Linked DNA regions of Homo sapiens. The protein of the gene in region 2 interacts with the protein of the main gene of each other region in a pairwise test. Each region holds a gene or a part of one and is shown on either strand. Other genes may lie near its edges. The genes, in order: KIFC3, PRPF18 and CARD9.

The links.
Region 1: the proteins of PRPF18 (region 2) and KIFC3 interact in binary tests that used the Homo sapiens proteins (3 or more experiments, as listed by UniProt).
Region 3: the proteins of PRPF18 (region 2) and CARD9 interact in binary tests that used the Homo sapiens proteins (3 or more experiments, as listed by UniProt).

Annotation. Positions count from the first base shown.
Region 1 is NC_000016.10:57,800,398-57,803,997, reverse strand, and holds the start of KIFC3 (kinesin-like protein KIFC3), read left to right. Parts: upstream 1-1,506; 5' UTR 1,507-1,628; intron 1,629-3,600. UniProt on the Homo sapiens protein: Minus-end microtubule-dependent motor protein. Involved in apically targeted transport. Required for zonula adherens maintenance.
Region 2 is NC_000010.11:13,589,819-13,593,638, reverse strand, and holds part of PRPF18 (pre-mRNA-splicing factor 18), read right to left. Parts: intron 1,872-3,820; exon of another isoform or gene 1,772-1,871; coding exon of another isoform or gene 1,751-1,771; intron 1-1,750.
Region 3 is NC_000009.12:136,367,070-136,370,889, forward strand, and holds part of CARD9 (caspase recruitment domain-containing protein 9), read right to left. Parts: coding exon 3,772-3,820; intron 3,633-3,771; coding exon 3,453-3,632; intron 3,369-3,452; coding exon 3,225-3,368; intron 2,807-3,224; coding exon 2,681-2,806; intron 2,229-2,680; exon of another isoform or gene 760-2,228; coding exon 568-759; exon of another isoform or gene 555-567; intron 189-554; coding exon 147-188; intron 1-146. UniProt on the Homo sapiens protein: Adapter protein that plays a key role in innate immune response against fungi by forming signaling complexes downstream of C-type lectin receptors.

The DNA.
Region 1 (3,600 bases), on a different chromosome or scaffold from region 2:
CATCCCCCGCCCCATCAACTCATAGGGACTATAATCAAGGGAGATAGATACTAAATCAGAATTCTAGAGACATTTTGCCTTCATCCACCCTTGCGGTCCCCTGGATCACTGCTGTTTGGAGGGCAGGCAGAGGAATTCAGAGATCATAACTCCCCAAATAAGGCTTTCTCTCCCATTGGAAGGGTTCTCCAGTGTGGTGTTCAGCTGGAAATCTAACTCTCTAGGGAATGATTCCAGGAGCGTTACATTCACCCTCTATCAGGCCTTCACTGAGGAATCTCAGTTGTCAAATAAAGCATGCACTAGGCTGCTTCCAGCTGGGGGACTGTGACTGTCCTGCTCTGGCGTCCAGAACAATCTGAGGCCCAGGCCCTTGGCTCCGTCGCTGGTCGAGATTCTTGACTGGCAGCCCAGCGCCTGGGCGGCAGCAGGAGATAGAACCCACCTGGAGTTGCCCGACCCCCTCCAGTCCTCTCCTTGATCTTCTTGGGCCATCCCCTGACAAGCAGGAAGGGACAGAGTACCCGCCCTCCTGGGATTATCTGCAGAACCGTCAGCCTGCATGGGCTGGCTTCAGAGTGACTTGCTTTCTCCTCTTCCGCACCCGGGGGTGTGGAGAGTGAGGGAGAATATTGCTGCTGGCTCTGGAATAAAATGCTGCCTCTGTTTGGGAGACAAAGAACAGAGTGGCTCCTCCAGGTCAGCTGTCTCTCCCGGCTGGCAGGCCCCTGGCCTCCCCCAGGCCTCTTCTGAGGCTCTAGGTGCCCCAGTAGCAGGGCCTTCTGCAGCAAGGCCGGGAACTGCTGCACCATTGGTGTGTTTTACCTTAAGGGACTCCAGGCAGCTTCCTTGCTGGGAAGATATTCATTTGCTGGGGTGGGGCTGGGGGTGCAGAGGTAGGAAGTGCTGTGGCTAGAAGGCGGCCTGGCCAGCGAGTAGGTGGTGGAGCGAGTGAGAGCGTGTGCGCTGTAAACAGTGTGAGTGCATGTGCGCCAGCGCGTGCAAGGACACGGTAAGGGATGTACATGTATTGTCTCGTGAGTAAGAGCTTGTGTGTGTGTTGGGATGGGAAGACACGTACTGGTATGAGAGCCCGCGTGAGAAGTGTATGTGTGAGTACTCGCGTGGAAGTTTTGCACTCGGGTTTGAGGCTGTGCAAAAGTACGCATGGCTCACCAGGTGTGGGGCTGTGTGGGCTGCCTCGTGTGTGCCAGCCCGTGTGCAGGCCTGTTTTGTGAGAGCCTTCAGGGAACGCATGAGCACGTGTGCCAGTGCGAGTGCGGGACGCGGGGAGGCGGGAGAGACCGAGTGGGAGGCCCCGCGAAGGAGTGGGAGTGGGAGTGGGAGTGCCGGCGGGAGACCTGCGGGGGCGCGCCCGGGCTGACGCGTGCGCGCCAGTGCGCGTGAGTGCGGGCGCGCGCCGCCGCCCCCCGCCGGGGTCGGAGCCGGTTGCCATGGGAACGCGCCGCGGCCCGAGTTAATCATTTCCTGTGGAAAGTGTGCGGGAGGGGCGCGAGCGGGCTGGCCGAGGAGGAGGCGGCGGCGTGGAGCTGCCTCCTGCCGGCGGGCCGGGCCGGGCCGAGCCCCGGGCGCTGCGGCGACGCCTGGATCCTGCCTCCGCCAGGCCGGTGAGTGGGGGGCCCGGGCGGGCTGGGTGCGAGCGGGGCGCTGGGCTCTGCCCGGCCCGCCGTTTGGGGCGCCGCGTCCGGGCCGGCCCTGCCCTCGGGACCCCTCTGCCCGGACCCGCTATGGGCGCGGGGAGGGAAAGGCCCGGGAGACCCAGCCCTGCGAGGTCCCCTCCAGCGCCGTTCAGCCCGAGTCGAGGACCTTGCTGGGAGCTGGGCACAGGGGCGGCGTGTCCCACGGGATCCGAGCAGCCTCGGGACCCCGTTTGGATTTTATTGAACGAGAAGAGCGCAGACCCTACCCGGGATGGGCTTGTCAATCGGCGCCGCCCTCTCCCCTTCCTGGCGTCTTCCCCACCCCCAGGGCTCCCTGGAAGGCTGCCTTTGGGTCCCTCCCACCACGTCCCTTGGGGAGTTCGCTTTTTCCCTGGCAGGGCCTGGGGCGGGGTGCGCCCGCCCAGAGGTTAGGAAGAAGGGCCTTGGCCGGTGCCCTCCGGGCAGTGAGGAATCGGGCCATTGACAGCCGCAGCAGTTGTGAGGGTCTCAGCAGGGAGGGCGATCCCAGGACCACCCCTTTAAGCCCAGCATTGCTAGTTAGAGCAGAACTCTGGCTGGTGCAGTGAAGGGCCTGGTCCTGGGAGATATTAAAGAGGAAGCTGTGTTTAATTAAATTCTGGAGTACCATTTACTGCCACCCAGCCCCCACCTCCATACCCCAACACTGTCTCAAGATTGCGGGTTGTGGCCACCCCTGGTCTTTCACCTTCCCCGGCTTTTCCTCTGCCTGAACAGGGTGAGCACCCATTCTTTCCCAGACGTGTATTCCCCATGCCCTTGTTAGAGTAGCCGTCTCCTTGACCAGGGAGAGTCATTTGCTAGGAATGCAGTCTCAGAATGGGGCCCTGCATTTGCAGTGAGTGGACTTTAGGGGCACAGGGTGGTGAGTTCTGCTGTTCACAGGGGCACCAGGGAGCAGAGGGTTTGAAATCTAGGTTGCCCTGGAAAGCCCAGGATAGATGATGGTGTGCAGGGAGGTGGCATTCCCTGTACAACTTCCTTGACCTTCTGCCTGCTCTCCCAGGGCGACCAAGCCCTGCTTGCTGCAGTCTCTGAGCAGCTGTCCAGCCTGTCCCCCCAGTCTTTGCAATGTCCCTGATCTAGGGCAGGGGGAGTATTGCAGCTCTGCTGTCCTGGTCTAAACCCAGAGAGGCAGAGACCCTCTTCCCCAGCCAGGCCCTCTGCATTCACCCACCACTGGAGCAAAGTAACTGAAAAATAAAATTTTGGAGCTCTTTGTATATGCCAGTATTGTTCTGAACACTTGGCCTTGTCTAATCTTTAGAGCAACCCTATAAGGTGGTGTTCTCCCCATTTTATAGATGGAGATAATGAAGTACGGAGAGGCAAAGTAATTCTCCCAAGGTCAGACATCTAGTAAACAGGGGAGCCAGGTTCTGAACCAGTCCCACTGCCCTCCCCCACGAATCCTAGGTTGGTAGAAGTCCCCGGACACCAGGTTTCATCTCAGATGCCCATGTAAATGAGAGAGAGTCCTGCTTTCTTGGCCCAGAACCCTGGGCTTAAGATTCCTTGATACTTTTGACCTTCACACCCCTGAGGCTGCTAAATTCAGCTGCTTTTTCCTCTTCGGGATCTAGCACACGCCCTTCCTCTTTCTTCCCGATATCTTCCTGGCTGCCTCCTCCACTTCCCTTCCTGATAACCGCAGAAACGCTATCTCCTCCTGTCCCTGCCCCTCAGACTGAGCTGAGCTGATCTCCCTGAAAGTCTTCTCTGTCCACTGTGGAGTCAGCCTCCAATGCCCTGCACTGTCTCACCTTCCCAGCAGCCGAGACTGCAGATGGACCTGCCTTGCTCCTTCCCTTGCCCATTGGACAGCTGGTCTGCAGGGTTGGTTGTGTGCCCAGCTCTGTGCCAGGCAGCCTGGAGAAGAGGACATTTGGCTGCTCCCCTT
Region 2 (3,820 bases):
CTGTTTTCTCCTTCGCATATTCATCCTTCCCCTCTCTACTGGCTCTTGACAATTATAATTTAAGTATGCTCAAGACTCTGCCCTGGGTATCATTTACAGCAGAACCACATTAAACTGTTTAATCTAATCCGTGTCCACTTCCTTACCCCCAATTCTCTTTGCAGCCCCACAGCATGTGGACATCCATTCTGTTTCACTGAAAAAACCTCCTTGGGGTCATAAATAATGTCTAAGATACAAATCCAAAGAGACTTCTCTGACTGATCTCATCCAGTCTTCGATTTAACTGCTCATTCCTTCCTTCCTTCAGTAACTTTCTCCTCTTAGCTGACAGATTCTTCTTATGTCTTCCTCACTTACTGGTTTGCTTAGATTTTCTATTTCTTGTATTTTTTTGTACTTTTTAGCCATTTACTTCACTTAGATTTTCCAATGTATTAGAACTAGTATACAGTTTTCCTTACTAATTTTATTTTCCAATGTCTCCCATGTTGGTTCCTGCCATTCCTTCCATTGGTCCTTCATTTCAGAATGTTTTGTATAATGTGGGGTAGGGGTTGTTGCTTATTATTTCCGTATGGATATCCAGTTGTTCAGCATCATTTACTGAAAATATCTTTCCTTCCATTTGGTTTTAGTGTATTTGTCAAAAATCAATAATTGTGTAAGGGTGGCTCCGTTCTGGGTGCTCTGTTATACTCTAGTGGTGTTAGCTGTTGCTCTTTATGCCAGCGCTATGCTGTTTTGATTATTGTAGCATTGTTACTGCAGCACAGCATAGTATCTTGCATATAGGAAAGATGCAGTAAATACTGGAAGGAAAAAAAGCTAAAATTCTGCACATAGCTCATCCTCATAACTACAACTAGTAAAACTACTAATTACTCCCCATTGAGTTTCTAGAGCAGCCTGGTTTTCCACACGAGGTTTTGCATTAAATGAAAACTCACCAATTCTAGGCTCCAAAACACTGGTGTTCTAGCAATGCAGACACATTTACCTCAGGGTGGTTACACCAGGCAGGGCACTTTAGGACAGGTGGTAAGAGGATATCTTAGTCACTTCTCTGCAATTTGAGAAAGAGGCACTCACAAGCTAAGTACTGATTATTTCAACTATCACAGATTAACCACAAAAAGCTGGGACACCACTTGAAATGACCAAAGATGAGGTGGCTCTTCTTTCTGCAAGAGCAACACCACACAGACAACTGTTTTCCAGCTACAGATGCGGTAATGACAACAATCTACTGATCCCTGACCCGTGTTTTCTAAAAAATTAAAACAAAGGGACTTGCTCTTCCCCATCTTGTAAGATGGTGGGTGAAAAAGTTGAGAAGCCGGATACTAAAGAGAAGAAACCCAAAGCCAAGAAGGCTGAGGCTGGTGACAAGGTGAAAAAGGGTCACCTCAAGGCTAAGAAGCCCAAGAAGGGGAAGCCCCATTGCAGCACAACCCTGTCCTTGTCAGAGGAATTGGCAGGTATTCCCGATGTGCTATGTATTCCAGAAAAGCTGTGTATAAGAGGAAGTACTCAGCCGCTAAGTACGAGGTTGAAAAGAAAAAGAAGGTTCTTGCAACTGTTACAAAACCAGTTGGTGGTGACAAGAATGGTAGTACCCAGGTGGTTAAACTTCATAAAATGCCTAGATATTTTCCTACTGAAGATGTGCCTCAAAAGCTGTTGAGCCATGGCAAAAAAAAAAAAAAACCCTCAGTTGACACGTGAGAAAACTGCGAACCAGCATTACCCCGGGGAACGTTCTGATCATCCTCACTGGATTCCACAGAGGCAAGAGGGCGGTCTTCCTGAAGCACCTGGCTAGTGGCTTGTTACTTGTGACTGGACCTCTGGTCCTCAATCGAGTTCCTCTATGAAGAAAACACCAGAAATCTGTCATTGCCACCTCAACCAAAATTGTTATCAGCGATGTAAAAATCCCAAAACATCCCACTGATGCTTATTCAAGCAGCAGCAGCTGCAGAAGCCCAGACACCAGGAAGCTGAGATCTTCAGCACAGAAAAAGATAAATACAAGATTACAGAGCAGCACAAGATTGATCAGAAAGCTGTGGAGTCACAAATTTTACCAAAAATCAAAGCTATTCCTAAGCTCCAGGACTACCTGCGATCTGTGTTTGCCCCGACTCATGGAATTTATCCTCACAAATTGGTGTTCTACATTTCTTAAGAAGAACCTAATTAAATAACTGATAACAAAAAAGGAGGACTGAATAAAACATGATAAAATCATTTGTGGTTGTAAGAATTATTTCATAAAACTTTTTTCACATACATATCAGATCAATATATAAAAATGTATTGCTATGAACGGGGCAGTGAAAAAGTCTGTAAGTTACTGACAGACACTGTGATGCAGAAAGATGAAAAATATAAAGCAACTATTCTGCATGAAATGATAGAGCTGCAGATCTAAAGACTGTCTTCCCATGGATACAACAGAAAAGACGCCTAGTTGTGTATGTTCCCTTACATCATGCAAGAGCACTCACCCTCAAGTTGGTCTAAGACTTGAGATCTATCCCGGCTGGCCACAGGAATATGAGAACATCGTGTAACCCTCTAAGCCTCAATTTCATCATCCATGAAAACAGCATTGCCTTGTGCACTAATTAACCGTTGTAAAGCTCAAATCAGATAGCATATAGCACTTTGAAAAATATAAATCATGTTAGTCTAATAATTTTCCAGTGCTTTGTTACATTAGCCCTATCAAAACTAGTTCTATGTTTGTAAGGTGAATAAATATCCATTCTATCTGTACAGGTTAACAGATCAGGCTCTGAAGTAGGAACAGACCAGGGTTCAAATCCAGGCTCTATCTCTTGCTAGCTGCATAATCCTATAGTCATGTAACTTCTCTTAGCTTCCAGTTTCCTCATCTGTAAATGGGAACAATGGCAACTTGTTGTACAAGTTAGAAAACACATATTGCATGATGCCTAACATTACTGCTAATATAAACTATGAATGTCAGTATTTTTTTTTTTTTTTTTTGAGATGGAGTCTCGCTCTGTCGCCCAGGCTGCAGTGCAGTGGCACAATATCAGCTCACTGCAAGCCCCGCCTCCCGGGTTCACGCCATTCTCCTGCCTCAGCCTCCTGAGTAGCTGGGACTACAGGCACCTGCCACCATGCCCAGCTAATATATATATATATATATATTTTTTTTTTTTGTATTTTCAGTAGAGATGGGGTTTCACCGTGTTAGCCAGGATGGTCTCAATCTCGTGATCTGCCCACCCCAGGCTCCCAAAGTGCTGGGATTACAGGCGTGAGCCACCGCGCCCGGCCGAATGTCAGTATTTTAATTCCCATTTCATGTACGCCCTTTGTTGGTCTGAACTGCTCTGTGATTGAAAAAATCAATCTTATCTTCTGGCTGGAATTATGTGATAATTCAATCAACTACCAAATTAAAAAATGAAAGACACCCAGGAAAAGTTTATATATTATAAATTATAAATGACCCTGAAGAATCTAAAGTTTTTTTTTTAATGATCATTTTTGTAGATTGGTGCATTTCAATGACGAAGAACATGATTATGCAAATATTCATGTTGTGAACCTTGAGGGTGGGCTGAATATTTTGTGATTCACTTTTCCCTTTAAAGCACTTAGATTTCAACACCCTGGCCCTTCCTAACATCCACTATGCACTCCAACACCTAAATTTAAAATACTCCCAACCACTCATCAAAAGGTCCCTGCAGTAGACATAAAAACATTTACAAATATGAACAAGCTTTTCCCCATACCTACCAAACAGCATTCTATTACCTCCACTTTTCTAATTGTT
Region 3 (3,820 bases), on a different chromosome or scaffold from region 2:
CATTTGGCCACCTGCTCTTCCTCCACCCAGCCCAGCCCACCGAGCAGGGCCATGTGACGGGCAGTGTGGGGCTATGCCTGGTGGCAGCTCAGCCAGGACCCCAGGTGAAGGAAGGCCAGCCTCGTGCTGGCTGGGGTCTCACTCACCTCCTGGGACCTCCTGGGTGAGCCATCTTCCAGGTCGGAGCTCTGTGGTCATAGAAAATGGGGTGGGTGGGCTGTGAGGGCAGAGGGCTCCCCAGGCACAGGGTGGGCAGGGCACAGAGCGGGATCCTCCAGGGAGCCCTGGGCATGCCCTCAGCCACACCAGGCCCCCTCCATGCCCAGAACAACCTGCTAGGCTGCCTGATGGCCAGGCCCAGGACCCACCCCGGCCCTGCAGCCCCACTTCCTGCTGGGACCCTGAACTGCTCGTGTGCCCTCACCCCACTGCCAGGAGGGGTTTGGTTAGGTTGGGGCCCGTCACAGAGAAGGGTTGGGTCGGGAAGGCCGGGGCTGAGGCTCCGTGCTCCCCTGGCCCTGCATCCCACGCGCCGGCTCCCCTCCCTGCCGCAGGCCCCAGGCCCACCAGGACGAGCGTCTCCAGCTGCTGCCGCCTGAGCCTGCCCTCCACGGCCAGTAGCTGCGCCTCACACTGGAACACCTGCAGCTGCAGCTCATCCGCCTTCTCGCCCAGCTCCCGCACCTGCTTGCGCAGCGCGTCCTTCTCCTGCAGGCCCCGGGCGTGCTGTGCGTGCAGCTCCTCCCGCGTGGCTATGGCCTGACGGGACAGCACAAGGCCGACCCTCAGTGAGGGCCCCAAGCTTGCCCTGGGCCCTCGGCCCGGCCGCCCAACTCCAAGCAGAGGCTCCGGAGGACGTCAAGCCGCTGGGCGCGGAGGCTGGTCACAGCCCCTCCATTTGTGTGCTCTGCGGACACGAAGTCAGCACGTGGGGGATTGTAAATGTGACAGTTGTCCCTGCTGCCCTTCTGTCTCCTCCCAAGCCTGCACCCCCGGTGGACACAGCGTGTGCTATGTACCCCCACACGTGCACATTTGATAAATTTTGGACGCGGCTTGATATGGAGACCCTGACTGTCCATAGCTAAGCGTCCTTCGTGACCGCAGCACTCTTTACCACCCCTGTCCTCACTGCGGACACTGAGACGCAGGAGCGAATGTGCAAACACGACGGCTTGACCACCCCTGCAGCCGAGGCTGGGAGGCCCTCACCTAACCCCTTCTGCCCAGACTGGAGCAACGGCTGGCAGCTTCCCTAATCCCTGGCCAACGCGCTCCCGGGAAGTCCCGTGGGAGCCCCCGCCCTGGGAGCCACACCAACCCCCATGGGGGCACAGCTGGATCTGCCCTTTTCCCCTGCCTTGGCGTGGGCCAGGCGCGAGTGAGGCTGAGGTGGGGCTGAGACAGGAGCTCTGAGCCTGGGCTGCTCTCATGGGGGCCGGGGCTTCCTTTGTAGCCCCAGGGGTCTCGTTTTAAGGCTCCTGATGTGGACAAAGTGCCATCCAGCATTTAGCCGAAGCAGCAATGGTGTCCATTGGAAACAACCTCCAGGATGGGACTTGGGACGGGGCATGGGAAGCAGACACAGCCCTGCCCCGCGACGCTCCATCCGGCTCACAGCACGTAGCACTGGAGGCCTTGCAGGCCTCACTCCCGTGGCCCAGGCTGGAGTGCAATAGCGCAATGGTGACTTGCTGCAGCCTCAGCCTCCTAAATAGCTGGGACCACAGGCATGCGCCACCACGACCAGTTAATTTTTTTTTTTTTTGAGACGGAGTCTCGCTCTGTCACCCAGGCTGGAGTACAGTAGCGTGATCTCAGCTCACTGCAACCTCTGCCTCCTGGGTTCAAGCAATTCTCCTGCCTCAGCCTCCTGAGTAGCTGGGATTACAGGCGCCCGGAACCACACCAGGCTAATTTTTGTGTTTTTAGTAGAGACGGGGTTTCCCCATACTGGCCAGGCTGGTCTCGAACTCCTGACCTCAAGTGAGCCGCCTGCCTCGCCCTCCTAGAGTGCTGGGATTATAGGCGTGAGCCACCGCGCCAGGCCAATTTTTGCATTTTTTTGTAGAGCAGGGATCTCACCGTGTTGCCCAGGCTGCTCTGGAACTCCTGGGCTCAAGTGATCCGCCCGCCTCAGCCTCCCAAAGTGCTGGGATGACAGGCGAGAGACACCACGTCCAGCCAAGCTTTTTTTAAGATTAAAAAAAGCTACTGGTAAAACAAGACAGAATGTTTCCATTTTTGTAAAACAAAACCAAATATATAAATAGATAGATAGGTGATAGATGATAGACAGATGGATACATGGATAGATGACAGGTAAGTCTGTAAGGTGGAGCGGGAAGGTTGAACACGGTTTTCCCTGACAGTAGGCTGGGGTGGGGAAGTATTGACTTCATCATCGTTTACTTTTTTTTAGTGTTAAGTATTGCTTCTGTCATTTAAAAAACAGACCAGGTGTGGCAGCTCAGCTTGCAATCCCAGCACTTTGGGAGGCTGAGGCCGGAGGATTGCTTGAGGCCAGTAGTTTGAGGCCACCCTGGGTGACATAGCAAGACCCCATCTCAAAAACAAATAACAAAGATTAAAAATCCTCTGACAACTGCCCTCAAGGGCCGTGGCCCTGGTGCACCCACCCGCGAGTGGGGTGCTTTGTCCTGCCCCTGCGAGTGCCCACCTGGTCCCGCTCAATGGCGACCTCCTCCATCTGCAGCAGGATGGCCTCGATGCGGTCCTTGTACATCTTGGAGTCCTTACGTAGTGCCAGGCACTGCAGCTCGAACATCTCCTTCTCCTCCATGCACTGCAGGGGGCGGCAGCTCAGCCCCCACAGGCCTGAGGCCCCCCATTCTGGCCCTTGGGGTATACTCCGGGCAGGGGCTCAGAAGCATGTGGTCAGGCCAGTTGGGATGTCGGGGGAGGCCATAGGAGTCCCCAGGCCCCTACCAGCCCTGCACTTCCAGACCGCGGCAGGACAGGGCCCTCCGGCAGGCCTCAGACACTGCTGTGCCTCAGGCACCATGAGCCCAGAGGTTGGCCTTTGCCATGGGGGGCAGGCGGGCAAGGAGAGGGCACCGTCCACTGTGCCTCCAGGAGTGGGTGAGTGGAGGCGCTGCACTGGGGTCTCCACACCCCACCTTCCAGGCACGGAGTGGGCGGAGCTCAGCCCGTCCAGCCTGGCTTGGACCCCAGGGGCCATGTCTCCCCGCCTGCCCTCCTACCCGGAGGCGTCGGGCCTCGCCCTGGCGGAGGTCCTTGCGCAGGGAGAAGATGGTGTTGGCCTGCTCCTGGTGGTCCCGCAGCGCCTGCCGCCAGTCCTCCTCCAGTACCTGGATGTAGGGGCTGCTCCTGTCCAGCTTCCCCTCCTGAAGGGGGCAAAAGGCAATGGCCTGGCTGGGAAGGCCCCCACTGCCCTGCCTGGGCTGCACCTGCCCTGCCTACGGCCCCACCTGGACGGAGGCCTCCAGCTCCTGCACCCGGGCCTGGAGCAGGGCCTTCTCCTGCTGCAGCTCCCACAGCAGCTCCTGGCTGGGCCGCTGCTCCATGGCGTGCCTGAGCTTCAGCGTGTGCTTGCGCTCCACCTTGCAGTCGTCCTCGGCCTTCATGAGGCTGTGCTTGAGCTGGTCAATCTGCAGAAGGTCCAGTGAGCCTGGCTGTCCCCTCCAGGCGGTGACCGCAGACCCGTGGGGCCACCCCCGACCGCCCCGGCCTGCAGACCCCGCCAGGCCAGGCGAGGGTGGCCTGGTTTCCCGGGGGCAGCGGGCGCACCTCCAGCTGCAGGTCACGGTTCCGCATGAGCGCGGCGCCCTTCTCCTCA